4 linked regions of the Homo sapiens genome follow. Each later gene encodes a partner of the first gene's protein in a complex. Each region holds a gene or a part of one and is shown in the gene's direction. Other genes may lie near its edges. The genes, in order: VCP, UBXN6, RHBDD1 and VCPKMT.

The links.
Region 2: the proteins of VCP (region 1) and UBXN6 are in contact, whole or in part, in a cryo-EM structure (PDB 8FCO), measured with the Homo sapiens proteins. Residues at the interface, in NP_009057.1 of Homo sapiens: Pro23, Arg25, Ile27, Gln43, Asp47, Gln50, Leu51, Phe52, Arg53, Gly54, Asp55, Leu58, Lys60, Gly61, Lys62, Arg64, Leu72, Glu80, Lys81, Gly97, Val99, Ile100, Ser101, Gln103, Pro104, Cys105, Pro106, Asp107, Val108, Lys109; in NP_079517.1 of Homo sapiens: Pro279, Ser280, Pro281, Ala283, Ser284, Phe286, Glu287, Leu288, Phe292, Phe293, Asn294, Leu295, Glu299, Ile300, Arg302, Glu303, Gln304, Leu306, Arg307, Ser308, Val311, Leu314, Ser315, Val316, Leu317, Arg318, Thr319, Lys320, Ala321, Met322.
Region 3: the proteins of VCP (region 1) and RHBDD1 are in contact, whole or in part, in a crystal structure (PDB 5EPP), measured with the Homo sapiens proteins. Residues at the interface, in NP_009057.1 of Homo sapiens: Asn33, Asp35, Val38, Phe52, Arg53, Gly54, Asp55, Thr56, Ile70, Leu72, Tyr110, Pro137, Tyr138, Phe139, Leu140, Glu141, Ala142, Tyr143, Arg144, Pro145, Ile175; in NP_001161080.1 of Homo sapiens: Ser300, Glu303, Met304, Arg305, Gln307, Arg308, Leu309, Arg311, Phe312, Asp313.
Region 4: the proteins of VCP (region 1) and VCPKMT are in contact, whole or in part, in a crystal structure (PDB 7OAT), measured with the Homo sapiens proteins. Residues at the interface, in NP_009057.1 of Homo sapiens: Arg239, Gly280, Glu283, Ser284, Arg287, Lys312, Arg313, Glu314, Lys315, Thr316, His317, Gly318, Glu319, Val320, Glu321, Arg322, Arg323, Ser326, Gln327, Leu329, Thr330, Asp333, Pro355, Ala356, Arg359, Phe360, Arg362; in NP_078834.2 of Homo sapiens: Arg14, Ser15, Phe16, Val17, Arg18, Gln32, Tyr33, Ser34, Ser35, Gly36, Gly37, Val38, Val41, Trp43, Asp44, Ile47, Val48, Leu97, Asp144, Tyr147, Tyr148, Glu174, Arg176, Thr177, Met178, Gly179, Lys180, Asn181, Glu209 (codon at 910), Tyr210 (codon at 913).

What each region holds. Positions count from the first base shown.
Region 1 is NC_000009.12:35,069,604-35,077,112, reverse strand, and holds the start of VCP (transitional endoplasmic reticulum ATPase), read left to right. Parts: upstream 1-4,487; 5' UTR 4,488-4,759; coding exon 4,760-4,776; exon of another isoform or gene 4,777-5,356; intron 5,357-7,509. Other genes in the region: FANCG (Fanconi anemia group G protein), read left to right, coding at 12-142, 243-389, 530-681, 1,085-1,151, 1,359-1,648, 1,788-1,834, 2,031-2,186, 2,619-2,742 and 1 more. UniProt on the Homo sapiens protein: Necessary for the fragmentation of Golgi stacks during mitosis and for their reassembly after mitosis. Involved in the formation of the transitional endoplasmic reticulum (tER).
Region 2 is NC_000019.10:4,454,775-4,462,660, reverse strand, and holds the start of UBXN6 (UBX domain-containing protein 6), read left to right. Parts: upstream 1-4,866; 5' UTR 4,867-4,963; coding exon 4,964-5,046; intron 5,047-7,359; exon of another isoform or gene 7,360-7,440; intron 7,441-7,886. UniProt on the Homo sapiens protein: May negatively regulate the ATPase activity of VCP, an ATP-driven segregase that associates with different cofactors to control a wide variety of cellular processes.
Region 3 is NC_000002.12:226,902,032-226,909,053, forward strand, and holds part of RHBDD1 (rhomboid-related protein 4), read left to right. Parts: intron 1-4,761; coding exon 4,762-4,850; intron 4,851-6,790; coding exon 6,791-6,847; intron 6,848-7,022. UniProt on the Homo sapiens protein: Intramembrane-cleaving serine protease that cleaves single transmembrane or multi-pass membrane proteins in the hydrophobic plane of the membrane, luminal loops and juxtamembrane regions.
Region 4 is NC_000014.9:50,108,117-50,113,574, reverse strand, and holds the end of VCPKMT (protein N-lysine methyltransferase METTL21D), read left to right. Parts: intron 1-62; coding exon of another isoform or gene 63-65; exon of another isoform or gene 66-855; coding exon 856-960; exon of another isoform or gene 961-1,489; coding exon of another isoform or gene 1,490-1,633; exon of another isoform or gene 1,634-3,861; coding exon 3,862-3,876; 3' UTR 3,877-4,938; downstream 4,939-5,458. UniProt on the Homo sapiens protein: Protein N-lysine methyltransferase that specifically trimethylates 'Lys-315' of VCP/p97; this modification may decrease VCP ATPase activity.

The sequences.
Region 1 (7,509 bases):
ACTGTCCTCAGGTCTCCAGGAGCTGATCACAGGGAACCCAGACAAGGCACTAAGCAGCCTTCATGAAGCGGCCTCAGGCCTGTGTCCACGGCCTGTGTTGGTCCAGGTGTACACAGCACTGGGGTCCTGTCACCGTAAGATGGTAAAGACAGTCCTAGGGTGGATTGGGGAAACCACAAGCATTATGTATAGCTTTTTGCTTTGTAAGGGTAGCTGAGGCCCGTGTCCTCCTATCCCTTTAGGGAAATCCACAGAGAGCACTGTTGTACTTGGTTGCAGCCCTGAAAGAGGGATCAGCCTGGGGTCCTCCACTTCTGGAGGCCTCTAGGCTCTATCAGCAACTGGGGGACACAACAGCAGAGCTGGAGAGTCTGGAGCTGCTAGTTGAGGTAGGGAACTGCCAGGTGAAGATGTGGGGTGGAGGATTCCTGAGGTGCTTGTGATGGGGTGACTTGACTAGTCAAGATCCAAGTATAAGGAAGTATGGCTCCCAAAGATTATAGATACAATTTTTTTCTTTCTCTTTTAGGCCTTGAATGTCCCATGCAGTTCCAAAGCCCCGCAGTTTCTCATTGAGGTAGAATTACTACTGCCACCACCTGACCTAGCCTCACCCCTTCATTGTGGCACTCAGAGCCAGACCAAGCACATACTAGCAAGCAGGTGCCTACAGACGGGGAGGTGAGGTTCCCCTTGCTCACCTGAGCTTCTCTTCCCACTTCTGATGCCTCCCCTGGGGTGTGACTCTGCTTTTGTTCTTGTGACTTGGGGGATGAATGAGGCAGTGGCAGGACATAGGTCGCCACTCCTCAGCCTCTTACCTTGCTTCTAGACCTGAACTGAGGACTCTTCTCTAAGACATTAACCTTCTCTATCTTTGACACTCTGAAGTCTCTTCCCCAGTCCATTCTGTAACTGGGGTAGATCCATACTGAGCCAAAATTGGAGCCCTAAGACCTTCCCTCCCTTTCTCCTCCTCAGGGCCCATGAACATCCATCTGTTAGCTAAGAGAGAACATTCTCAGGACCCTTGCAGGTTCCCTGCTAGGGCCTAGGGTGAGGCTTATGGGCTTTTACTCCTCAGGGCAGGAGACGCTGCAGAGCATTACTTGGACCTGCTGGCCCTGTTGCTGGATAGCTCGGAGCCAAGGGTGGGTGTGTCTTCAAGCTTCTCTGCAATGGGGTAGACGGGTTGGTGTCCCCTTTGAAATACAGCAAGACTGCAATTTTTTGTTTTTTCCTCTATTCTGTCTGTCCAGTCTGGGGGCCCAGGACTCTGCATGGTACCAGAGCCTGGTGAAGAGGTTGGGGATGGTGGCTCATGCCTTTCAAGACACTGCTTCTTCTTCCCACTCCAGTTCTCCCCACCCCCCTCCCCTCCAGGGCCCTGTATGCCTGAGGTGTTTTTGGAGGCAGCGGTAGCACTGATCCAGGCAGGCAGAGCCCAAGATGCCTTGACTCTATGTGAGGAGTTGCTCAGCCGCACATCATCTCTGCTACCCAAGATGTCCCGGCTGTGGGAAGATGCCAGAAAAGGAACCAAGGAACTGCCATACTGCCCACTCTGGGTCTCTGCCACCCACCTGCTTCAGGGCCAGGCCTGGGTTCAACTGGGTGCCCAAAAAGTGGCAATTAGTGAATTTAGCAGGTGAGCCCGGGGTCCTAGAGGGGGTGTGGAGGGATGATTTTCTGATTGGGACCTGAGTTGGTGAGCTCCATGTTCACCTACTTACCCTAGAGTTTCTGAAATTGATTCCTCTTCACCCCTGTTCTGTGTCCTACTTCAGGTGCCTCGAGCTGCTCTTCCGGGCCACACCTGAGGAAAAAGAACAAGGTGATCTAAACTTTCAGTTTTCCTCTTACCTCCTGGAAGTGGTAGTGGTGGAAGTGGGTTCCCTTTAATGTGTCCCAGCCCACCAGGAGACTTAAGAGAAAGGGACTGTGGACACAAGAAGAAATAGAGGAGGATTTGGGGTTTTGGTGACTGTGAGGCTGGGAAGACACTTCTTGACTTTGGGAGTGGTCCCCAGGGGCAGCTTTCAACTGTGAGCAGGGATGTAAGTCAGATGCGGCACTGCAGCAGCTTCGGGCAGCCGCCCTAATTAGTCGTGGACTGGAATGGGTAGCCAGCGGCCAGGATACCAAAGCCTTACAGGACTTCCTCCTCAGTGTGCAGATGTGCCCAGGTATGTATACTTGCATGACGTCGGCTATGCATAGATGTGCAAGGACAGAGAGGCCCATGGGAAATACTTGGGCGTAAGTGTAAGAGTGGTGTTCTCAGACAGGAGGGGTGATTGGGGTTGTGCTATATATACCTAGGGATATATCCAGGTGTTCAAATATACACAGTGTGTATGCAGGGCTCCCAAGAGTTCCCTGGTTTCCCCGATATCCTCAGACACAAAGACCATGACTCTGCTGTTGTGGGTTGCACAGGAGTAGGGGGCAGATGATGGACACTGGGATGGGAATGGTTGTGAATGATCTGCCCCCGCTTCCATATGTGAGTGTAGGCAAGATACTTCCTCTCTCTAGGCCTCAGTTTCCCTTTTTATAAAACAATGCCTAAGACTATGTCAAGTTCTAAGACTCTGTACTCTGGGCTGGGGCTACAGGTAATCGAGACACTTACTTTCACCTGCTTCAGACTCTGAAGAGGCTAGATCGGAGGGATGAGGCCACTGCACTCTGGTGGAGGCTGGAGGCCCAAACTAAGGGGTCACATGAAGATGCTCTGTGGTGAGGCTCAGGCCTGCTGGCTTGGGGCTGAGGGGCAGTTGGTGTCCTAGAGTCCTTGGACCTATTGTGGGTGGTGAACACTGAAAGCGGGGGTATGGCTGCCCAGCTTTCTGCCAATCTTTCACCCTTAGGCATCATCCTTCTTTCTCTCCAGGTCTCTCCCCCTGTACCTAGAAAGCTATTTGAGCTGGATCCGTCCCTCTGATCGTGACGCCTTCCTTGAAGAATTTCGGACATCTCTGCCAAAGTCTTGTGACCTGTAGCTGCCACGTTTTGAAGAGCTTGAGCTGGGTCCCCAGTGGGCTGTCTCTCTGTGGGGAGGGCTTTCTGCTTCACCATCATTAGGAATGTGACCATTCCTATATAATTCCTGGACTGGTGAGATTGGTGGTAGGCCTGTGAAATTTGCCCTAGTTACTACCATTCTCGTTTTGGAGGAAACAATCTCTGCCACCACCAAGTCATTGACTTTGCTCGAGGCACCTTTTTTCCTGTTTCTCCTTTTCTGTTGTCGAGTAAAATTTCATATTTATCTCGTCTGCCTACTACATATACTTGCGTGGGAAGGCTTGTGACCGTCTAGTTGAGTGCTAGTTGTCTATGATGCCCTTTCCTGACATCGTCTACCTTATGAACTTGAAGTCTGGGTATGAGGAAAGGGCTACAGGAATCCTCACTTTGGAGGCAGTGGCTTTAGTCCTTCACATTGCCTGAATGCAGAGCCCCAAAGCCCAGGACAGTGACAATGAGTGGAGTTGGGTCTGAAGGGTGGTCTAGATAGGCCTCTCAGGACAAGGGCAGGTACCTGTTACTTAGAGACAGGCAGGTTTCTCTCAGAGTAACTCTTCACTCCCTTCCTAATTCCAAATTCTAGAAATTCGACTCGTCTTAGTCAAATGTGTCTGTGTGGGTACAGGGTGAAAGGTGAATTGAGTCAGCATATCACCAACAGCTGCCTGTTGACTACTAACAGGGACCCCTGTTATTTGGGGCCCAAGGATTTTCAAGTCCCAGCATATGCAGTTTTCTTGCTAATTTGGGTTCTACTGAATTGGCTGTGTGTTCTGTGGTTGCCCTTTGACTTCTCTGGATTTGAGTGCCTTATTATAAGGTATTAATATTAATGACGGGAGGAAGAAAGGCACAAGCGCTGAGAAACTGCAAAGGCTGTGGGATTGGGGTTACCAGAGGGTGCAGTGACAATGGGGTAGGAGTGGGGTGCTAGTCAGAAAGTTCAGAGTAGGGGTGGTTGGAGGCAGCGTTGAGAAGGAGCAAGAAGTGTCAGGGTGGTGATGGCGTCTTAGAAGATCTCCAGGTTTTGGGAGAAGATGGGTGTATGGGTTACCACAATAGGACTAGACTAATACAAGGGTTCAGTCTATTGTGCCACGTTCTTCCAGGAGGATAAACTCCGGAGCCAATGAACTGGAGCCAAGTGGGAGAGTCCGCCTCTAAGGGATTAAAGGGTCTCCTTTCACTAATCGATCTCGCCCTATTCCTTTCGTTGATTGGCTGAGAATTCCAATCCGTCGAGGAAGCGTAGCGTTGCGGCCAATTGACGTGGCGTTACTAGGCGTGTCGCATCACTGAGGCGGGAGCCAGGCCGCAAGCGAATTTCCTGATTGGCTGTGATCTGCGGGTTGCTGGGGAGAGGCGCGGAGAGGCGGGCGAGAGTCCGCAGGGCAGGCGCTGATTGGCTGAGGTGGGAGCAGCTTCCCTTCCGATGATTCGGCTCTTCTCGGCTCAGTCTCAGCGAAGCGTCTGCGACCGTCGTTTGAGTCGTCGCTGCCGCTGCCGCTGCCACTGCCACTGCCACCTCGCGGATCAGGAGCCAGCGTTGTTCGCCCGACGCCTCGCTGCCGGTGGGAGGAAGCGAGAGGGAAGCCGCTTGCGGGTTTGTCGCCGCTGCTCGCCCACCGCCTGGAAGAGCCGAGCCCCGGCCCAGTCGGTCGCTTGCCACCGCTCGTAGCCGTTACCCGCGGGCCGCCACAGCCGCCGGCCGGGAGAGGCGCGCGCCATGGCTTCTGGAGCCGAGTGAGTGTGCGCGCGCCGTTCGCTTGCTGCGGCGGCGCGCACCGGGACCAGCCGCGCAGGGTAGGCCCGGCGGGGCCTGGCCGTGGGCGCGTCAGAGAGGTGGAGACCAGGAAAGAGGGAAGGGAAGCTAGGGGGCGAGTGAGGGGCCGTGGACCCGGCAGGCCCGGCTGGGGCCAGCTGCGCACCCGCGCGCCCCCTAGGCGGGGCTTGCGTTGGGTCCGGGTCGGAGCCTGGGCCGGATCGTGCTGTGTCATGCAGGCCCCGGCCCGCCCGATTGGCTCCCTTAGAACGGACGTCTGGGCCTGGCCAGGTCTTCCGGCCCACTCCGCCGGCGCGGCGCCCCGGGGCTTTGGGGCGCCAGTCTGCCGTCCGGCCTACCACCCGCCGAAAGCCTTTGGTCCCCGGAGAGAGCAGGCCCCGCGAGCCCGAGGCCCCAGCCGGGCCCGGTGGGCGTGGACTTTGCGCCATGTGAAGGCCTCAGGAGCTCTGCCACCGAGGCGGAGCCCGGGGTCGGGGAAGGCCCGCCGAGCTCAGGGAAGCTCACAGCCGCCTTTTTGGAGCCGGGTCGGCGGGGCCGGAGGTGGGCATCCTCTGTGTGTGACCTGAGTCGTGAAGGACTGTTAGGGAGAGGGCGAGCCCTACCTTTCGCTTCTGGTCTTCTTACTTTAGGCCTGTTGTTCATACTAGAAAGTTTGAGCCAGTTTTCCTTAATGTTATGACTCGTGGGTGGGGAGAAAGGAATTTTTCTTTAACATTTTAGGTTCTTGCTAAAGTTGGAATCTCAGTTCGTGTTTTGTGCGCCTTTCCAGATTTCCAGGTTTCGTGGTGTGCAGTTTAGAGTTGCACTAACTCTTCAAAAACACAAACGTGCGCGCACTCCTTTCCCCAACCAGCTATATTGAGAAATTACCCGGGCTCTGGGGCTTTCTGACCCCACCTCCATCCTTAGGAAAGCGTTAGATAAAACTTGGCTACCTCAGCCCATTCAATTTAGAATAGAGAGCTTTTAGAGGCAAAAAAAAAAAAAAAAAAAAAAAAAAAAACACAGCCAGCCCAAGGAAACTCTATGCAAATTACCTTCCTTCCTTGAAGAGATTAGTTTTTTGAGGTGTGTTCCTTTTTCTCAAGTTTCTGAATTCGGATAAAGTATTACTCAGTTGCTTATTTAAAAGAGTCACTTATTCTGAAAGTATTCTTTTGGTTTATATGCAGTCAGCCTCTTATTTTCAAAAGTAAAAATCTAAAATTCTTGGAACCTGGCATCATCAGCTGTTTCTAACCTCTTGGTCACCTTGATGACTCTTAGCTGAAACCCTTCCAAGTCCCGTGGAGTCCCCTGTGCAGTTCTGGAAAGGGATTGACTTATACAGAAGACAATGGAGGATTGCCCCAAAGAGTGTCCAGAACTGCTGTTGGCCCATGGTCAGGCCAAATTCAGTCTTTTAGAGATTACCACATCTGATCTCAGTAGGTAGATGGGGAATTAGAGGCTTTACCTTAAGAAAAGGGCATACCACTCATCTCCAGAGCCAGAGTCCGGGATGGTAGGCAGAATGGAGGTTTTCCTAGGATACAGCTTTGAGATTAAAATACAAACTATTGACCGGGCACAGTGGCTCAGGCCTGTAATCCCAGCATTTTGGGAGGCCGAGGCAGGCAGATCACTTGAGGTCAGGAGTTTGAGACCAGCCCGGGCAACATGGAGAAACCCCATCTCTATTAAAATGCAAAAAGTAGCCAGGCATGGTGATGGTGCACACCTGTAGTCCCAGCCACTCTGGAGGCTGAGACAGGAGAATCACTTGAACCCAGGGAGGCAGAGATTGCAGTGAGGGAGATCGCGCCACTGCACTCCAGCCTGGGCAACAGAGGGAGACTCCGTTTCAAAAAATAAAAAACTATGGTGACTAGAGGCATCTGGCGTTTTATTTTTCTCCAGTCCCAGTTCTATAAGTCAAGCAAGAAGATGGGCAGTCCCTGGAAGAGTATTTTGATGGGACAGGAGTGGGAGAGCTCGTGGGTTTACATTGCTCTCAACTGTCACATTGAGCATGCTTGGCCTCTAGTGTGTTGATAAGCATTGGAAGAGTCTGCCTACTCAGCAGCATTGTGCCTGGAGTGGCAGACTTTTGGAATGGGGGAAGCAAATTTGAGCAGAGGAAACTGTCGTTAGAAACTAGTTTAGAGGCAGTGGTTAAAAATGCAGCCTATGTGTGAGGGTTAGCAGAAGGCCTACCATTTTGTTAGATGAATGGGGTTTGTTTTTCTCTTGGGTGTATCAGGACCCAAAGATGTAAGAACCCCATGGCTTCCTAGCTGAGCACAGCATTTTTCTTTGTCTCTTGCAAATTGTGAGGATATTTCCAATGGGAATACTATTTTGTCTTGTTTTGTTGACTTCAGTATCCCCAGCCCTTAGAACAATGCCTGGTACATAATAGAGACTCATGAATTTGTTGAATGAAGAAATTCGTTTTAAAAATTTATTTTCTTTGCTTCCTTCATTGTCTGGCCTTCCTACTTTGGTTAATGCTTATGTTTTCCTGAGCCTTACTAACACGAGGCCGCTCTTAAAAAAGAGAGAGCGCTGGGTGCTGTGGCTCACGCCTGTAATCCCAGTACTTTGGGAGGCCGAGGTGGGCAGATCACCTGAGGTCAGGAGTTCGAGACCAGCCTGACCACCATGGTGAAACCCCATCTCTAGTAAAAATGCAAAATTAGCCAGGTGTGGTG
Region 2 (7,886 bases), on another chromosome or scaffold:
GCTCACTGCAAGCGCCACCTCCCAGGTTCACGCTATTCTCCTGCCTCAGCCTCCCAAGTAGCTGGGACTACAGGCACCCACCACCACACCTGGCTAATTTTTTGTATTTTTAGTAGAGACGGGGTTACACCATGTTAGCCAGGATGGTCTCGATCTCCTCCTGCCTCAGCCTCCCAAGCAGCTGAAGCTGCAGGTGCGCACCACCATGCCTCACTAATTTTTGGTTTGTTTGTTTTTTGAGACAGAGTCTCACAAACCAGAATGCAGTGGCATGATCTCAGCTCACTGCAACCTCTGCCTCCCAGGTTCAAGCAATTCTCATGCCTCAGCCTCCCAAGTAGCTGGGATTACAGGGAGGCACAACCAGCACTGATTTTTTTTTTTTTTTTTTTTGGTAGAGACAAGGGTTCGCCATGTTGCCCAGGGTGTTATTTTTATTTTATTTATTATTATTATTATTTTTTGAGATGGAGGCTTGCTCTGTTGCCCAGGCTGGAGTGCAGTGGCATGATCTTGGCTCACTGTGACCTCTGCCTCCCGGGTTCAAGCGATTCTCTGCCTCAGCCTCCTGAGTAGCTGGGATTACAGGTGCTGCCACCACCCCTAGCTAATTTTTGTATTTTATTTTTAGCAGAGACAAGGTTTCATCATGTTGGCCAGGCTGGTCTTGAACTCCTGACCTTGTGATCCACCCACCTCAGACTCCCAAAGTACTGGGATTATAGGGGTGAGCCACTGTGCCTGGCCTGTTATTTTTATTTTTTAGTAGAAACAAGGTCTCACTATGTTACCCATCCTGGTCTTGAACATCAGGGCTCAAGCAATCCTCCTCCCTCGGCCCCCCAGTGTTCTGGGATTACAGGCGTGAGCCACTGCGCAAGATTGAACAATTTTTAAAAAATTACCCGGAGGCCGGGTGCAGTGGCTCACGCCTGTAATCCCAGCACTTTGGGAGGCTGAAACAGGCGGATCACCTGAGGTCAGGAGTTCAAGACCAGCCTGACCAACATGGAGAAACCCTGTGTCTACTAAAAATACAAAAAAGTAGCCAGGCATGGTGGCGGGTGCCTGTAATCTCAACTACTCGGGAGGCTGAGGCAGGAGAATCCGAGAGATGGAGGTTGTGGTGAGCCGAGATCGCACCATTGCACTACAGCCTGGGCAACAAGAGCGAAATTCCTTCTCAAAAAAAAAAAAAAAAAAAAAATTAGCTGAGTGTGGTGGCACATGCCTGCAGTCCCAGCTTCTTGGGAAGCTGAGTGGGGAGGACTGCTTGAGCTCAGAAGTTCTAGGCTGCAGTGAGCCATGATTGTGCCACTGCACTCCAGCGTGGGGAAGAGAGTAAGACCCTGTCTAAAAAAAAAAAGAAAGCTGGGCATGGTGGCTCATGCCTGTAATCCCAGCACTTTGGGAGGCCGAGGCGGGCGGATCACGGGGTCAGGAGATCGAGACCATCTTGGCTAACACGGTGAAACCCCGTCTCTACTAAAAATACAAAAAATTAGCCGGGTGTGGTGGCGGGCGCCTGTAGTCCCAGCTAGTCGGGAGGCTGAGGCAGGAGAATGGTGTGAACCTGGGAGGTGGAGCTTGCAGTGAGCCAAGATTGTGCCACTGCACTGCAGCCTGGGCAACAGAGCGAGACTCCATCTCAAAAAAAAAAAAAAGAAAAGAAAAGAAAAGAAAAATAAATGTTGTCCTCCCAAAGTGCTGGAATTACTGGTGTGAGCCACCGACCGCTCCTGGCAGAAATGTTAAATTATTTAATCTCATAACCTCATCCGACATGAGGAAGATAGTCCAGGAGAGCGTCATGGTGGAAGAGGATTGAGTTAGGCAGAGGAAGAGAAGTCCCTTCTGGTAAAGGAGAATGCCTAGGCAAAGGCCCAGAGGTGAGCTGGAAATACTTCCAGGTAACTGAGGCAGAGGTGGAAAGGTGGGTGATAACAAGAAACGGGGTTTCTGAAACCCTCAGAATACTTAGAACCTGAAATAGAAATTTATTAGGGCCTATTAATGTTAGGATCTCCTTAGACCAGGCTGAGGAACCCCATAGGATTTTATTCTTGGAGAAGTGGGATGGGTCTCTGCCACTTTCCAGCTGTGTGACTTTGGCCCAGTGTTGTACCTTTATTTGAGTTATAGGGTATACAATTCCTTATTCACAACAATGAGCTGTAATTTTCTTTTCTTTTCTTTTTGAGACGGAGTCTTGCTCTGTTGCCAAGCTGGATTGCAGTGGCGCAGTCTCGGCTCACTGCAACCTCTGCTTCCCAAGTTCAGGTGATTCTCCTGCCTTAGCCTCCTGAGTAGCTGGGATTACAGGCATGAGCCACCGTGCCCGGCATACTGAGAACTTTCTAATCACATGATCACCCCTACAATCTATAGAGAGTGTTATTCTTATCCCCATTTCATAGATAGGAGACTGGAGATCAGAAAGATTGAAGTTTGGGTTGCACTGTATTCTTCTTTTATTTATTTATTTTTTTACTTTATTTATTTATTTTTGAGACAGAGTCTCGCTCTGTCGCCCAGGCTGGAGTGCAGTGGTGCAATCTCAGCTCACTGCAACCTCTGTCTCCTGCGTTCAAGTGATTCTGCTGCCTCAGCTTCTCAAGTAGCTGGGATTACTGGCACACACCACCACACCCGGCTGATTTTTGTATTTTTAATAGAGACGGGGTTTTGCTATGTTGGCCAGGTCGGTCTTGAACTTCTGACCTTAAGTGATCCACCCGCCTTGACCTCCCAAAGTGCTGGGATTACAGGTGTGAGCCACCGCACCTGGCCCAATTCTTTTCCTTTTTTTTTTTTTTTTGAAACGGAGTCTTGCTCTGTTGCCCAGGCTGGAGCACAGTGGCATGATCTCGGCTCACTGTAAGCTCTGCCTCCTGGGTTCACGCCATTCTCCTGCCTCAGCCTCCCAAGTAGCTGGGACTACAGGCGCCCGCCACCAAGGCTGGCTAATTTTTTTAAAAATTATTTTCAGTAAAGACAGGGTTTCACCGTATTAGCCGGGATGGTCTCAATCTCCTGACCTCGTGATCCACCCGCCTCGGCCTTCCAAAGGGCTGGGATTACAGGCATGAGCCACCGTGCCTGGCCTTTTTTTCTTTTTTTAATAAGACAGGGTCTGGCTCTGTTGCCCAGGCTGGAGTGCAGTGGCGTGATCCTAGCTTACTGCAGCCTCCAATTCCTGGGCTAAAGCAATCCTCCCACCTTGGCCTCCCAAAATGTTGGGACTGCAGGCCTGAGCCACCCGTCCAACCCATGATATTTCAATTTCAGTCTTGGGGTGGGCTGTTTCCTCACCTGGAGGCTTCTCCTCCATCAGTCTCTGTGTATCTCATTCCAACTCCTTCTTTTTTGAGGCAGAGTCTCCCTCTGTTGCCCAGGCTGAAGTGCAATGGCGAGATCTCGGCTCACTGCAACCTCCACCTGCCGGGTTCAAGCGATTCTCCTGCCTCAGCCTCCCGAGTAGCTGGGATTACCGGTGCCCATAGAGACAGGCTTTCACCATGTTGGCCAGGCTGGTCTCAAACTCCTGACCTCAAGTGATCCGCCGGCCTCGGCCTCCCAAAGTGCTGGGATTAGAGGCATGAGCCACCACGTCTGACCCCCAACTCCCATTTTTTGAGGCTTGTTTTAACTGTCACTTTGTGTATCTTCTTTGTGGATTGCACAGACCAAAGTACGCCACTATTAACTGGTGTCCACCAAAGTGGATCCCCAATCCCCAGGTCCCAATTGGGTGCATTGGGTGCATCCTCTTTTTTTTTTTTTTTTTTTTTTTTTGAGACGGAGTCTCGCTCTGTCGCCCAGGCTGGAGTGCAGTGGTGAGATCTCGGCTCACTGCAAGCTCCGCCTCGCGGGTTCACGCCATTCTCCTGCCTCAGCCTCCCGAGTAGCTGTGAGTACAGACGCCTGCCACCATGCCCGGCTAATTTTTTGTATTTTTAGTAGAGACGGGGTATCACCGTGTTAGCCAGGATGGTCTCGATCTCCTGACCTTGTGATCCGCCCGCTTCGGCCTCCCAAAGTGCTGGGATTACAGGCATGAGCCACCGCGCCCGGCCCAGGTGCATCCTCTTAAACAGCTCCTACCTAGGGTACGTGGTGATGGTGGCGGGGGGGTGCTTCAGGCACCAAAACAGGCCAGATCGTGGGGGCCTCCAATACCCAACATTGAATTGGGATTTTATCACGTAAGCTCTGGGGAGACAGAGAAGGTTGGAATTTTTTTTGTTTTGCTTGAGACAGGGTCTCTCTCTGTCGCCCAGGCTGGAATGCAGTGGCTTGATCACAGCTCACTGCAGCCTCGACCTCTTGGGTTCAAGCGATCCTCCCGCCTCTGCCTCCCAAGTAGCTGAGAGGCGCGCGCCACCACCCTCGGCTAATTTATTTTATTTTATTTTTTTTTTTTTTATAGAGACGAGGTTTTGCCATGTTGCCAGGCTGGTCTCCAACTTCTGGGATCAAGCAATCCTTCCGCTTGAGCCTCCAAAGTGCTGTGATTGCAGGCGTGAGCCACCGCGCCTAGTTTAGGTTGAGCAGCGAAAGGGATAGGGCCCAGTGCTTTCTCTGCGAGGTTCAGTTGGCCTGTCCCTGTCCTATCACCGTTTGTCACCGTTTGGGGAGCGCCACGGAATGCCCTGTCTCCAATCGAGAGGTGCACTCGTCGCCCTGGCAACGGAGTCCGGAAGAACCACAGAGACGCGGCTCCAGCGTACAGAGCGGCCGCCCTGGGCCAGCAAGGCACCGAGCGCTAGAGAGGCACGTCTAGTCGATTGTCACGTGGCAGGCCAGGGGAAGGCGGGACTTCCGGCGGCGAGGTAAATTTTTTTTTTTTTTTTTTTTTTTTTTTTAATTTTCTTCCGGTGGCTGGTCTCCGGCGGCCCCGTCCCCGACTGGGCCCCGTGCCCCCCCGCCCCCGCGGCCCCCCGCCGCCGGGCCAGCCGCCACCATGAAGAAATTCTTTCAGGAGTTCAAGGCCGACATCAAGTTCAAGAGCGCGGGACCCGGTCAGAAGCTCAAAGAGTCCGTGGGGTGCGTGAGGAACGCAGGGGCTTGAGGCCCTGCGGGGCGGGGACGGCCGGGGAGAGAGATCTGGGGCCTTGGGCGGCTCGGGAGATCGGAGAGGATGAGGGGCTGGGAGCGGCACGCGAGGGTCAGGGGAGGGGGAGAGGCGCCGGGGGCGGACGAAGTCGGGCCGAGGGTGGGCGTCAGGGGGAGGGGAGAGAGATCTGGGGGCGGGGCAGGAGGGGGCGGGTATGACCCGGGGGCGCGGCGGGGGAGGCGAGGGGAGGGGAACTAGCGCAGGGGGCGGGGCGGGAGGGGAGGTCTCGGGGGCGGGGCCGCAGGAGGGTCCGATGCAGTGGCGGGGGATTAGGGCGACGGGGCTGTAGGCAGTTGGGGGTCAGTGGAACGACCTTTGGGGAAAAACGGGATCATGAGTCCTGAGCCGGGTGGTGAGGGAGAGCTCTGTCTGGGGACCCGGCTGGCCGAAGAGGCCGGGATGATTTGGGGCAATCTAGGTGACCATGGATGGGAGCTGAGCTTGGAGGAGGACGCACAGCTGTGGGGTGGGGTGGTGAAGAGTTGTTTTGAGGTATCCATGGGAAGAGGGGTTCTGGATTTGGTATCTGGAGCACGTGGGAGGCTGATGGGAGACTAGAAAGAGTCTGGAAGGCCAGGGAGGCCGGGGTGGGCAGCGTCGTCAGTGACCTGGGATGTCCTGGCGAATTGAGAGGGAGGGGCTGAGGAAGGTGTGTGAGGAGAGTGGAGGTGAGGGATTCTGACAGATGGACTCTTACCCGGGAGGGGCCTGAGAGGAGAAGACGGGTGAGACAGACGCGTCTTAGCAGGCTGGGAGAAAGAGCTTCTCTGCGAGGCTTCTCTGCCACGTCACTGTGCCAAGTGGATTATGGAAGTGGGAGAGGAGGGGAAAGGAGATAGATGCCGGGCAGGCTTCCGGATTGTCTAGGGAGGACTTGGAGAGAAGGGCCTGAGCAGGGCTGAGCCAGCTGGGAGGGCCGGGGAAGAAGTGGAGCTAGGGAAGGTGCAAGGCTGAGGGCTGTTGGGTTGAGAAAAGGGAAACTGGAGAGCTGGGGCCGCTGCAGGGAGCTGGCTGGCCAGAGGGTGGTGGGGACTGATGGAGAGGGACTGAGGAAGTCAGCCAGGCAGCCAGGACACGGGTCTGTAAGCAATAGTGGAAGGGATTGTGAGGGAGTGGGGGCTGGGAGAGGCAGGGAGGTGGCAGGAAGTGGGGGTCAGGAATCACGGGGCAGTGGGGTGGTGATGGAGGTAGGGGCATAGTGAGGACGTCAGGGTTCCTGGGGGAGAGCAGGAGAGCAAAGGCTGAGTGAGGGAGGGAGAGGGGTCAGGGAGAGAAGGGGGCAAATCGGGGGAGCCCTTCATTGATTCAACCAATAGTGGGTGGGGGGTGCTGGGGCCACTGGGACTGGGCATGATAGGAAGGATGCAGGGTATCGGGGTGATGGCTGGATCAGCCCAGAGCCTGGGCGGAGAGGGGAAGGTTGGAGGGGAAGGTTGGGAAAGGAAGCGGTGCGGAGGTCCCTTGTGGAGCGAGACTGCATATCCAGGGTGTGTGGGGTGGGTGGGCACCAAGTCCTGTTTTAGGCTGCAGTGGTGGACAGGAGAAGGCCTCTGCTGTCCCAGGGCTCACCTTCTAGAGGGAGCCGATGGACAAATAAACCAACAGACCTTGGATGAGCGCTCAGGCGATGAGTGCTTGGATGAGTGCCCAGGGCCTCCAAGGAGGGTGAGCAGGGGCCGTCAGGTGGTTTGGGAAGGCCTCTCCCAGGACACAGTGAGACTCAGCTGTGGGGAAATCTGCCCCTCCTTCTCTCCCTGCGGCAGCTCTAGCCCTTTCCAGACCCCCATCCTCCTCCCACTCCCCCGGAGAACATTCTGGGCAGAAGGTGCAGACAGTGCAGGGGCCTGCAGTGGGGAGCAGCTGGGGTGTGGGAAGAACTGCGGGGAGCCCAGGGGAGACAGGCCACGGGAGGGCAGTGGGCCAGGCTGGGAAGGGCTCTCTGGCCAAGGGAAGCTTTAGGATTTTGCAGTGGGAGGGCGTTGTGCAGTGGAGTGATGCTGACGCTCCCTGGCTGAGGTTCCAGAAGGGTCCCTGTGGCTGCCCAGGGGGGCAGGGTCCATGGCTGGTTGGGGTGAGGTGCCCTGGGAAATGGCATTTTGTTGGAAAGACCCAGATATCGGATGAGGCCGGGGTGGGTCTTCATGAGTCATCTCCTCTTCCACCCAAGATGCTCAGCTGTGGGAGGACTAGATAGGCAGGGGTGGGACGAGGAGGGAGGGCTGCCCGGGTATGTAAGCAGAGCCAGAGGAGTATAGGGCTTGAACTGAGAGCCTGGCCTCCCAGAAGGTTTTAATAGACCTACGGCACAGAAATTGACACAGCCCGTAAGTTCATGGGAGGGGCCTGAGAGGAGACGGGTGAGACAGACGCGTCCGAGCAGGTTGGGAGAAAGGGCTTCTCTGCGAGGCTTCTCTGCCAGGTCACTGTGCCACGTGGGTTACGGAACTCTCCTTGGTGTAGGGCTCAACAGGGTGGAGCCACGAGTCCATGAGCTCTTCGTACTTGCACAGCCCTAGGCCTGGCATGGAGTGGCCAGGGCGAGGCTGGTTCTGCTGTCCGCTCTCCCCAGGGTCCCGCCACGAGGGTGGCGTGGCATGGGGCACATCGCCCGGACTTCCTGTCCCTCTTGGGTTTAGGAATGGGATGGTGAGGCCTCCCTGGCAGCTTGTTAGGAGGAGTAAACCAAGCGAGCCGACCAGCTCCCAGCAGGGTCCTGGCACACAGTAGGTGCTCAGCAAACGAAGCTGTGACCTGAGGGTGGAGAGTCTTA
Region 3 (7,022 bases), on another chromosome or scaffold:
TTACTCTGAATAGGATAGAGGGTGGTAGGTCATAACCAAATCCCCAGTCCTAGCCTAAGACCTAGTAAGGTCAACAGGAAGTTGTTCCTAGTTGCAGGATTGTCCCTGAATGCTGCTTCGGATGGCATCTTCCACGTGGAGCTAAGAACAGAATGAAGCCACAGGCTTATTCAGAGACCACAAGCTTCACAACTTCTGTTTAACACATCTAATTATGATTGTAACAATACTGTCTGGTTTTGATGCTGTTACGTTTGAAGGTAGATCCCAGCCACTGATCAGAGCATTCAGATGGATCATCTTCCCCCAAAGCCCAGGGCTTCTTTCTGTCTCCACAGCACCCCCAGCTCAGGGGTAAAGTGCCCTAACCCTAGGACTGGTGAGAACCACCTTCCCAGTTCAGTTTTCTCCCTGTCTGCAGGTCCATCTATCTTCTCGCTCAGGATGTGGGTATCTCTTAGAGGGTGAAGGGAAGTGATTTGTCAAATGGTTACCAAGGGCATGGAGAAAGTTAATTTACCTCTTAAAATGACTTTTATATTCCTTTTACATTGGTGAAATTCATTCTCCTGTTTTTTTATGTGTGTGATGTTGAGAGATTCTCAGTTTTGATTGAATAAGATCATAATCTCATTTTTATTTTAAAATTGAACACTTTTATAAAGCTTAAATGAAACAAGACCAGTTAAATTTTTGAGATGGAACTTTTGTGGAAAATGCTGAATGTTGGAGGATGACGCAATGAGTTCTCCGGACTGCCAGCCTCCCTTCCCTAGATATTTGAAATTATATTAGGGCAATTAGATTATAACTCAAACTTCTGAAAACCATTTAGAGATAGATAAGAAATTCATTTCACTGTATTGTACTCTAAATTGTAAATGAGATTCAAGATTAATTGTTTAATAGGTTGAAGTTTTAAATTGAAACTTCCTTCTATGTTATTTTATATCATATATGCTTCACCATGAAGGTTGATTTGAAACCAGAGTTTCAGAAATACCAATATTATTATATTCTTTTCATCTAAATTGAAGTTATTATTATTTTTTTAACTGGTCCTGGCCACTTCTTTGTATCTCTCAAACTGCCACTTTCTTTGTCATTTTTACAACTATTAATAGGTGGCCGATTGTACTGAGCCTGAGCATAGAATAAAATAAGTACAGTGGTCCCCCTTATCTGTGATTTTGCCTTCTGCATTTTTAGTTAGCCCCAGTCAACCTTGATCCAAAAACATTAAATGGAAAATTCCAGAAATAAGCCATTTATAAGTTTTAAATTTCACACTGCTCTGCATAGCATGGTGAAATCTCACCCCGTCTCACCCAGGACGTGAATCATCTCTTTGCCCCGTGTGTCCATGCTGTCTCTGCTACCCACCCGTGAGTCACTTAGTAGCTGTTATGATTATGAGATGAGAAAAGCATAGTATATATAAGGTTCAGTACTATCTGTGGTTTCAGCCATCCAGTTGGGGGTCTGCAGATAATGGGGGGTGACTATAGAATTTCTTAGCTTGGCTGGGGAGCTAAAAGCATAGTTCCTACTATTCTTGCCAGAAAATGGGAAAAAATGTTCAATCCCATAATTTTATTATATGAAGTAGTGACACGGACAGGAGGCAGAAACAGTGGGTAGAAGAGGGCGGTTCCCAGCAAAGGCCCCACCCTCAAGCCTGGAAACCCACAGCCCTAAATGGGAACAGGCATTCCTGTTTTTGCATCCAAAAGCTGCCTATTGGCCCACCACACCCCCCTCTCCTGTATCCATATAAACCTGAGACCCCAGGCTCCAGAAGGAGACAAGGAGATGAACAGAAGAGCAGAAGAATAGCAGAACGGCGCAACAGAGAGAAGGAGCATCTGAATGCTAAGAGGGAGTTTACCTGGACATGATCGGAGAGGAGATATGTCACTGGACAGCCAAACTCCAGGGGAAGACCATCTTCCCACTCCATCCTTCTTCCACCTCCCCATCCATCCCACTGGGAGCCACCTCCATCACCCAATAAAAGCCCCACATTCATCCTTCAAGTCCACGTGTGATCTGATTTTTCCTGGATGCCAGAGAAGAAACAGGGAAACAGAAAACTTTCACACTGGCCCTCTGCCTTTGTGGAAAGGCAGAGGGTTCACTGAGCTGTCTAACCCTTAAGCTGCCTGTGGACCGCAAGGTTAAAAGAGCGCACTGTAACACACACCCACTTGGGTTTCAGGAGTCGCAGATACACACCCCTGGACGTTGCCGTGAGGCTGAAGCCTAGGGGCACTCATCCCAGCTCCTGCACCTGCCCATCTGTGTGCTCCCCTTCCCGTAAGGGGTTTAAGCATGCACGGTCACCAAACAGACAAGTTACACCACTGTGGCACATCCTGCAAGCGGGGGGGGAGGGGGGTCAGGGAACTCCTGTTTCAGTAGATATATCTGATGAAAATAATGCTCTCCTGAGGGGATGATCGTGTATGTGGTGTGTGTGCGTGTCTGTGTGTGTGTGCACGCGCATGCATGTGCCATGACTTTTAGCACGTGTGCATGTATGTGAGGGCTTGTCTGGGCAATAGTGTCATTTAGTCAGCTAATGGGAACAAGCATCAATGCTGTTCTCTTTACAAGGCTCCTGTTTGTCTCTTTCTTTCAAGTGTTCCTCATTGCATGTTCTTTTCCTGAGAGCCAGCGAGTCTTTTCATAGCTTGGAGACAAAGAAAATTACTCAGAACCATCTTGCTTGTGGTGTTTCAGGGAATCTCCCCTAGGCTGCTGCCATAGTAGGCGAAATGTATTGGTTTTGACTCTGAGTCTCGTGTAGGTTACCAAATGGCGGATTCTTAGCTCTGTGATTGCCGTGGCTCAGCAAGCACCCTGAGCTGAACATCTAGTGGTTTTAACTTACCTCCTGTTGGTCTTGGTGAAACGGTCCTGGCACACTTGAGCCATTTACTCAACATATCCTTGAGTGCCTCTCATGTGCCTGGCCCTGTCCTGGGTGTTTGGAATACATATGTAAAAGCCACATAAAGGCTATGTTCTTGGAGTCTCCATCAGGCTCTTTCATAACTTTCAGTTTCCCACCTTCTGGAATGAGAGGTCACTATTCCAGGCTGTGGGAATGCGTTCATTTGCTTGGCTTTTTTTTTTTTTTAAGCTTCTAATTTTGTATAATGTATGAATGAGACACCATTGCTGCCCTCAGGGAGTTTGTGTGTGACAGAGAGAGACGGACAGGCAGGCAGACGTGTAAGTACTGTGCCACCAGCAGACTGGCTTCGTGCCAGAATAAGGTAGGAGCCTCAGCTCTGAGGGGAGGCAGGAGAAGGAAAGAACGGCTCTTCAACTGGGGTGGCATTTTTTGACAGAGGTGCTGTTTGGCTTAGCCTATGGTCAGAGAGTGCTTGGGGGATGTGACAGTGGGGCATGTGGGAATGGAGGTAGTAGACGATGAGGTCTCCACCCTCTGACTTTGCAGAGATGGGCAAGGCCAAGTGTTGGAAGGGCTTAAACACACACCGGAGTATTCTGTGAGAACCAGTGGATTTCAGAGGATGGCAATGACACCACTTGCCTTCTGCCTCAGGAGGATAACTGATGGCCGTGTGTGGGATGCACTGGAGAGCAAGAGCTGGCTTGCAGGGAGACCAGCTGGATGATTTTCTTTCATTTATTTTATTCATTCAACACACATTCATCTGGGGTTCACTCTGTGCCCAACACTGGGCATTTCCAAATAGTCCAGATGGCAGTAAGCATGGTTGTGGCAGTAGGAATGGGAAGGCTGGGAGGGGTATGAGAGGCATTACAAACGGGAAGTGGGAGTGGCACCCCAGAAAAGTCTAGTTTAAGGTGCTAGTGGATGTGTGCATGTGTGCGCGGGGGTGTCTAGAGGGTGGCGGGCAGCTGGAAATTGAGGTCAAGTGCTTAAAGAACAACTCGTTGTGTAGGACCCCCCCCTTTGTGGTAACAGCAGAGGTTTTTGAGAATCGCCAGTAATTTCTTAAACTCAGGCTGGTTGGGAGGTCATTCAGCCAGGGAACTCCACAAAGAGTGTTGCCACTTGGGTCAAAGTAGACCTCTGAAAATAAATCTTACAAGTAATTGCTGGTTTTAGATGCCAGTTTAAGAAGAGTTAAACCACTGTCATGCCCTAACGCAAACACTTTCATGCCCTAACTCATCTTTCAAGTTTGAAATTTAAATGTATGTTTCTTTGTTCTGAGTGACTGAAACATACACATGAAGACAACTTTGGTGGATGCAGGTGGGCATCTCAGTTCCTTTTGCTGAGTTTCACTTGCTCTCTGCTTCACTCATCCATGGTGTAGAAAACTGCAGCAGTCTGCCCTGCCATAACACAGATAGACATCATCCCTCACAATGGCTGGATAATTCCAGATTTAATGCCAAACAGAGAAAACTGATTTTATTTATGTTTTGTGATAAGAGGTACAGAAAAAAAACGGAAAGCGATGTAATGACTTGTCTTGACCAAATGCTTCCACTGCTCTGGAGGAGACAACCCACTTCCCCTGGTTAAGGAGGGGTGTTGCGTTTTAAACATGTGGTGGTTGTTATTCATTGTACTTTTTTTTAAGGTAGGAGATGTTGTTCTTTGGACTGAGTTAAATGCTGCTTAGCATAAAAGACTTGATGTGGAACAAAGCCTGCAGACTGTGACTATTTGACATGCACTGGGCTAATGAGAAGACAGAATGTCTCTAATCAGCAGCAGAACAAACACTCACAAAGGGTCTCCTTCCCTCCTAGGACTTCCTTCGCTGGGCATCTGGCTGGGATTCTTGTTGGACTAATGTACACTCAAGGGCCTCTGAAGAAAATCATGGAAGCATGTGCAGGTACAGAATAAAACACCTTTGGCATGACAACAGCTTGGAAGTTCATGTTAATTTTAATGTGAACAGAAGCAACCCCAAGTTTCCCTGTGGTTCAGCTCAAGAATTCCCTAATATGCCTGTTTTTCTTTTTAAACCGAAAGGTAAAACAACCAGTGCAGTTCCTTACATTGCTCCACAAAAGAGGCTGCAAACTTAAATTTCGAATCTGATACTTTCTTAGGGGACAAATATCAGTATATATTTATACCCTCAACCTTAATGCTACCCGCAGAAAACCACGATTTCCTAAAGAATGCAGAGAACTAAAGTGCCTTTAAAATAATGCATTCTTCTATAATAGTCCATGAATTAATATACGTGCAAGGCAAAGGTGAAAAAGAAAACAAAGCCTGGACTGAAGTGCATGGCCAGTATTTTAAAGAATTCAGACTGATGACCGGGTCCTTGGTGGATGAGCCATATATTCATGCATGGCGAAACCAAGTCTGTTATTGCTTGAAGCTTAGCTCCTGCTTTTTTTAATTTTGTTTTTCCCTTCAAATTGATACTCAATGAAAATATTTCATTTAGAAATACTTGTATTTTTTAGACCTCTTAATTTTCAATGCGATTCTCATTTTGACTTGTAAGAAAACTGGTTTGCAAACACTTGTTTTATAGACTGAGTTCCACTATTTCATCTTTTATTCATGGGAAGTCTTCTGAGACTATTTTACCTTTTCTTGAACCATAAATAATTTGTTTCACAGTTTGTGCTGATGACTGGTATTCTTGAGAACCATATAATATTCATGATAGTAGAAAGCTTTCCAGGCACTGCACTGGCACCTTTATTAGCAGGTCGTGTTCACTTTTGGTTGATTTTTACAGGCTGTGTTGCATTTAAGCAGATCCTCATTTTCCCACGTTTGCTTATTAATGTGTTTCCACTGTACGTACTTAGAGGAGGCAGTGGGAGCTTCATTTATTGAAAATGTCCAGTTTTATTGTATTTTCAATACAATTTAATACTCATTAGTACTGATAAAAGAGATGATTCTCGGGAGTTTAATGTCTTGTTTCTTTTTTCTGTGTCTCATGATGAAGCGGTTAGTAAAGCTTTTTGCAGACATGTTATGAAATTTAAGCAAGTGCTTTGTTTAATTTTTAAAGAGGATTTTCCCCTAATTATAATATTTAAACTCTTAGTTTTAAAAGCCTTAAAAAATAAGTGGTGACTTATTTCTACACCACTCCATTTTCAAAGTAATAAATACAATAGCAAATTAAATAGGAAAATTAGAACACTCAGTGCAATTTGCAAATAGCCTGCGAACTCGGCCTTTTTTCTGTGAGCTGAGAATTGAAGGACACAGGAACCCCATGGAAAACGACCCAGCATGTGGAAGCTGCTGTCTGATGCCTCCTGGAAGAGGAGGGTCACCCTGAGGGTGTGGCCCTTGGCCCTCCCTCTCTCATTTCATTCAGCCGTGCCAAATTGACTGAGTAGACAGTCCTACTGCCTTCTGTAGGGACAAGAAAGAGTGAAGTCCCCTAGGAAGGGTAGGGAGGATGGCTCTCCTAACACCTTCTTTGAGGAAGGTTCTCCATTTAGCCAGAGTGTCTCTGCTTGTACAGAGACATCAAAGCCGAGGCTTGGTACTTTGGCAGGCAAAGACTAAGGAACTTCAGTGAGTGTAAATTAGGGTTTCATTTTCCACTACACACACACACACACACACACACACACACACACACACATTCTTTTCCCTGTAGGGACACACACACACTCTTTTCCAGTTAGGGCTGGCCCCCAAACAAAAGGGAGTTTATTTTAATAAGTGTTTAGAAATCATTTGAAATGACCTTGGGCTTTGTCCAGAGAACTTTCTAATTACTGGAACAATTAGCATTTAAAGCTTTATGGCTGCCATTAAAATGTTTATTTCTTTTACGTTTAGGCGGTTTTTCCTCCAGTGTTGGTTACCCAGGACGGCAATACTACTTTAATAGTTCAGGTAGGCACTGTATTTCATTTAATAAATTTTAACTTATTTTTAAAATTATAGTGTTCAGCTCTACAGAGTACTTTAGGATACTACTAGTTTCTGCTGTGGTAGGGTCATTCACATGTTGTGTAACTGTGCCTCTAACACACCTGGAAGCTAGATGGAGGGTAGCCTAGGGAGCATA
Region 4 (5,458 bases), on another chromosome or scaffold:
TACAGGAAGTTGCAAAATATAGTATATAGGGTTTTATGTATCTGTCACTCTTCTTCCCCTAGTGATCACCCAAACCCTTATATGGGCACAAATCTATCACATTGTGAGTGACTCCTTTTGAGGGTACATCTATATAGGCCTGCAGTTTTGTCTGCTGGAAGGACTACTTTGGTTTAATGAGAAAGCAGGTATATGACTGCCTCAGGTAACAAATACTAAAATGTTTGTTTATTTTCATGTTTTTCTTGAATATGAAAAATGTTCATGAACTTTTGAAATGATGCATAATGAAAATTTCGTACTGTTAAACAGCTTTTATTGGGGTAAAGCATATGTAAAATGCATATGTATCAGTCAAGTGCTGAGCTTAATTTTTCATATGTATACACCCAAGTAACTACTTACCAACATAAAGATAGAGGACATTTTCAGGATCTTGGAAGGTTTGCACACTGCCCTTTCCCAGGCAATACTCAAAAGGTAACCACTGACCAGGCGCGGTGGCTCACGCCTGTAATCCCAGCACTTTGGGAGGCCGAGATGGGCAGATCATGAGGTCAGGAGTTCGAGACCAGCCTGGTCAACATGGTGAAACCCTTTCTTTACTAAAAATACAAAAATTAGCTGGGTGTGGTGTCGTTTGCCTGTAATCCCAGCTACTCAGGAGGCTGAGGCAGGAGAATCACTTGAACCCAGGGAGGTGGAGGTTGCAGTGAGCCAAGATCGCACCACTGCACTCCAGCCTGGGTGACAGAGTGAGACTCTCAAAAAAAAAGTAACCAGCATTCTGACTTCTGTCACCCACAGGTCAGTTCATATTATTGAATTTGAAGTATGTCTCTTTTAAATTTATAGCTCCTTCAGCTAGATTTTGACTTTGAAAAAATTCCTTTGGAAAAACATGATGAAGAGTATCGAAGTGAAGATATTCATATTATATACATCAGAAAGAAAAAATCGGTAAATAACATTCTCAGTTCTTCATTCTCCAAGGAGGTTTCATCAGCTGGACACTATTTCAGGGCATATGTGTGGTATGGGCGTTGATTTTGATGTGGAGAAACAGCTCTAATGATTCACTGGACTCAGGCAGTAACTTCATTGTCAAGATAATTTAATCTATCTTGCCTTGGGTTTTTGCTCTAAAGCCAGGCTTTTTTTTTTTTTTTTTTTTTTTTTCTCGTATTTTTTAAGTAGAGACACGTTTCACCGTGTTGCCTAGACTGGTGTCGAACTCCTGGGCTCAAGTGATCCGCCCACTTCGGCCTCCCAAAGTTCTGAGATTACAGGCATCAGCCACCATACCTGGCCAGGCTTCGCTTTTAAAGGCCTTTTCCAGCTTCTCCATAGGCGTAAATTGTATAGCTCTATAATTGGGTATTACCTCAGACAAGTTATTAGCTATTTATAAGTTTCTTTTATCTCTGTGAGATTTTAAAATGCCTGCTCTTACCTTTGTGAACTTTTCCTTATTAAAAATTGTTTACAGGAAATGAAATACAACAAGGCAGATGAGTCCATAAAAGATAAATGCACTCAATTAAGTAGAATTTATGTATTTTCCCGCTTCTTGGTGCATGTTTTACCCTGTATAACAATCACATTTTATGCAGGTTGCCTCAGTGACACCTAGGGTTTGAGCCTGTAGAAAGAGGGAAGAATTGTACTTCATCCTTTTTTTTTTTTGAAATAGGGTCTCACTCTGTCATCCAGGCTGGAGTACAGTGGTGCAATCTCGGCTTGCTGCAGCCTCTGCCTTGCAGGCTCAAGAAGTGATCCTCCCACCTCAGCCTCCTGAGTACCTGGGACCATAGGCATGCACCACCATGCCCAGCTAATTTTTGTATTTTTTTTGTTGTTGTTGAGACAGGGTTTTGCCATGTTGTCCAGGCTGATTTTGCACTCCTGGACTCCAGTGACCTGCCCACCTCGGCCTCCCAAATTGTTGGGATTACAGGTGTGAGCTGCTGCGCCTGGCCTTTCATCTATTTTTGTATTTCCAGCACCTTTGGTATATGTGACTAGTGTAAGGCAGGGAGATGATTAGTTTTATGAATTAAGGATGCTAGATTCAATAAGCCCACACTTTTTCTATCATCTTTGCTTTGATTATGTTTGTGGTAAAGTTTTCTGATTATATGAATTCTAGTCAAAAGCAAATAAAACTTAGGGAACAGAAGTAGGTGTTAGGACTAAATCTAAGTAAAAAGGCAGCAGCGGGATTATTCAGATTAACATTTATGTGGCATGGTGCCACAGATACAAAAAAAACTGTTTTGTGCTTTAAGGGATCTAGTGTTAACTGAAGCTGTTGTGCAGTTTTAAAAGTAGAATTTTTTGGAGGCAGAAAGATTTTGTGTTTCCTAAATATAGAGGCTTTTTTTTTTTTTTCGGCCAAAAAAAAAAACTCTTATTTTTTAGTTGATGTAACTCACATACCATAAAATTCACGCTTTTAAGGTGTACAATTTGGTGGTTTTTAGTATATTCACATAGTTGTGTAAATTACCACTTTCTAATTTTTAATGATTTCACCCCCCAGAGAAGCCTCTTACCCATTAGCAGTCACTCCCTGTTACCCCCGTCCCCAGCTGCTGGCAGCCACTAATCTCTATGGATTTGCCTATTCTGCACATGTCATATGTAACAAGTCACATACTGTGTGGCCTCTTGTGACTGTCTTCTTTCACTCAGCACAGTATTCTCGAGCCTTATCTACATTGTAGCACACATTAGCACTTAACTCCTTTTTGTGGCTGAATAATATTCCTTTATGTGGCTGTACCACACCTTATCCATCCATTGATGAGATGAATAATGCTGCTATGGACGTTCATCTACAAATTTTTGTGTGAACATGTTTTCAGACCTCTTGAGTATATACCTAGAGGAGAACTGCAAGGTTATATGGGAACTCTGTTTAACTTTTTGAAGACTTGCCAAACTGTGTTCCTAATCTACCATACCATTATACGTTCTCACTAGCAGTGTATAAGGGTTCCAGTTTTCTCCACATTTTTACCAACATTTGTTAATTATACCCATCTCACTGGGTATGAGATAGTCTCTAAACTGTGGTTTTCATTTCTCTAATGACTAATGATGTTGGGTATCTTTTCTGTATTTAGAAGAAATGCTTGGCCCATTTTCAGATTGACTTATTTGTCTTTTTACTTTGAGTTGTGAGAGTTCCTTATACATTCTGAATACTAAACACTTACAGATGCATTATTTGTGAATATTTTCTCCCATTCTGTGGGTTGTCTTTTCATTTTCTCAATAGTGTGTCTTGTATTTTCTTAATTTATTATTTTCTTATTTTTCTTTTGAGACAGAGTCTCGCACTGTCACCCAGTCTGGAGTGCAGTGGCATGATCTTGGCTCAGTGCAACCTCTGCCTCCCAGGTTCAAGTGATTCTCCTGTGTGAGCCTCCCAAGTAGCTAGGACTAAAGGCATGTGCCACGACGCCCAGCTAATTTTTTTGTATTTTTAGTAGAGATTGGGTTTCACTAGGTTGGCCAGGCTTGTGTCGAACTCCTGGCCTCAAGTGCTCTGCCACCTCAGCCTCCCAAAGTGCTGGGATTACAGGTGTGAGCCACCACACCCGGCCTATGTTGTGTCTTTTGAAGCACATATATTTTAATTTTGATAATGTCCAATGCATCTGTTCTTTCTTCAGTTGCTTGTTAGGTGTCAGCAAAGAACCATCTATAAACATGCATGGTTGTTCACTTGAATTGCATGTAGCCACTGTTATACTAGGCATACTAGGCATTATGAGGCATATTAGGCATTATTAAATACCCAGTAAATAGTTTGTGGTAAATCAATCTTTTAAGTTTCCTTTTTTTTTGTTATAGAAATTTCCATCGTGAAGCCTTTAATCATCTTACCCAAGGCTCTAACAACCTGGGTAAACTAAAGATGTGAATAGAGCATGTGAATACAGCATGGGAAGATTGTGTTCACAGATTTTTTTTTCCGGCACGTCCTTAGAGATCCGATGTATAGATGATGACCACCAGGGGCTGTCTGCAATACGAAAAATTCCTGCTTGCCTGCCTGCCTGCCAATGGCCCTGAATCCAGCTTAGGTTACTTAGTTCAGCATCAAGTTCTTCTTAAATGTTGGGAATCAGTTATTCAAATAAAAATTGGTATTGAGGCGAGGCTGAAATCTGCCAAAAACAGCCAACATGATTTGACTGGACCTTTTACAGGAAGCTAGAGATAAATTTCTGAAGAGAACTATCTGCTATTATATAATAATGTTTTAAATTCAAACTAGTAAATTTTAGTTTGTCTTCAGAGTTTAAAAGGTTTTCATTTTGTACATAATTATACAATATTTATCATTTGTATTTTCCACTTCATTTCTTTTAAAATATCTTTAATACTGAAATGTTCTTTTAATTTTAAAAAGAACTGAGATATTGTCTTGTATACTTATATTAGCCAAAGTTTTCTTTTCCTCCACCATACATATCTATGTGATTTAATCAGTAAATTGTACTGTAATGAGTTGCTAAGAAGACAAATCAGAAGATTGGAGGAACAAAAGATATCTTTACAGATTTTTCATTTGAGCATGGAGTGAGAATAGAAAGACCAGTTTCAGGCTTATGCACTTACGTGGCTCATGCACTTTATGTATATGTTCCAGGAAAATCTGGCTTAAAAATACTGGTATTGTTTACATGAAGCAGTGAAAGGTTTTTGAATAACTACAAATGTAGTTCTATATGTATATACCAAATGAATTTCTGTTCTGTGTCTCTCTGTTTTATGTTATGAAGCCATTCGCTCATATACAATAATCTGTCAAGGACTTTAATCATACTTGTTCCAAAGAGTAGTAACCGGATGGAATTCTGGTATTTATAGGCATTGGTGCTAGATGGTACATTTTATGTGTTAAAATAAACATTGTTTTTGAGACCTTGTGACTGTGAATTTCAGAAATACCTTTGAAGAAAGTGAACATCTAAACAGTTAACAGGAGCAAAAGCAGCCCTATTTAGAGACATTAAGGATACAAGTCAAGAAATCAGTTCATTCCTTTCAGGTTTATTTCAGTCTTAAAAGTTTCCTTTGCTGGTTTCCCCCCCGCCAAGATACTTTGTTCATACTGTCCTTAGCATTTCATTAAGCAGTTTGCAAGGCAGTGTAACCTAAATCTGTGGTGCTTTGTGAGGTACAGATAGTGCTAGCTGTTATTAATGATGTCTTAGGACAAATGACCACTTTTTAGCTTGTTTTATAACATGAAATTTGTAAAAATAAGTTTGACCTTGACTATAATAGTCCACCCAGGTTCCTTAAATGTCTTTTCACCCTCCAGTTTTTATGCCCTCCTGCTTTCTCTTTTTTTTTTTTTTTTTTTGAGACAGGGTTTTGTTCTGTTGCCCAGGCTGGAGTGCAGTAGTGGCACAATCTTGGCTCACTGCAACCTACTCTT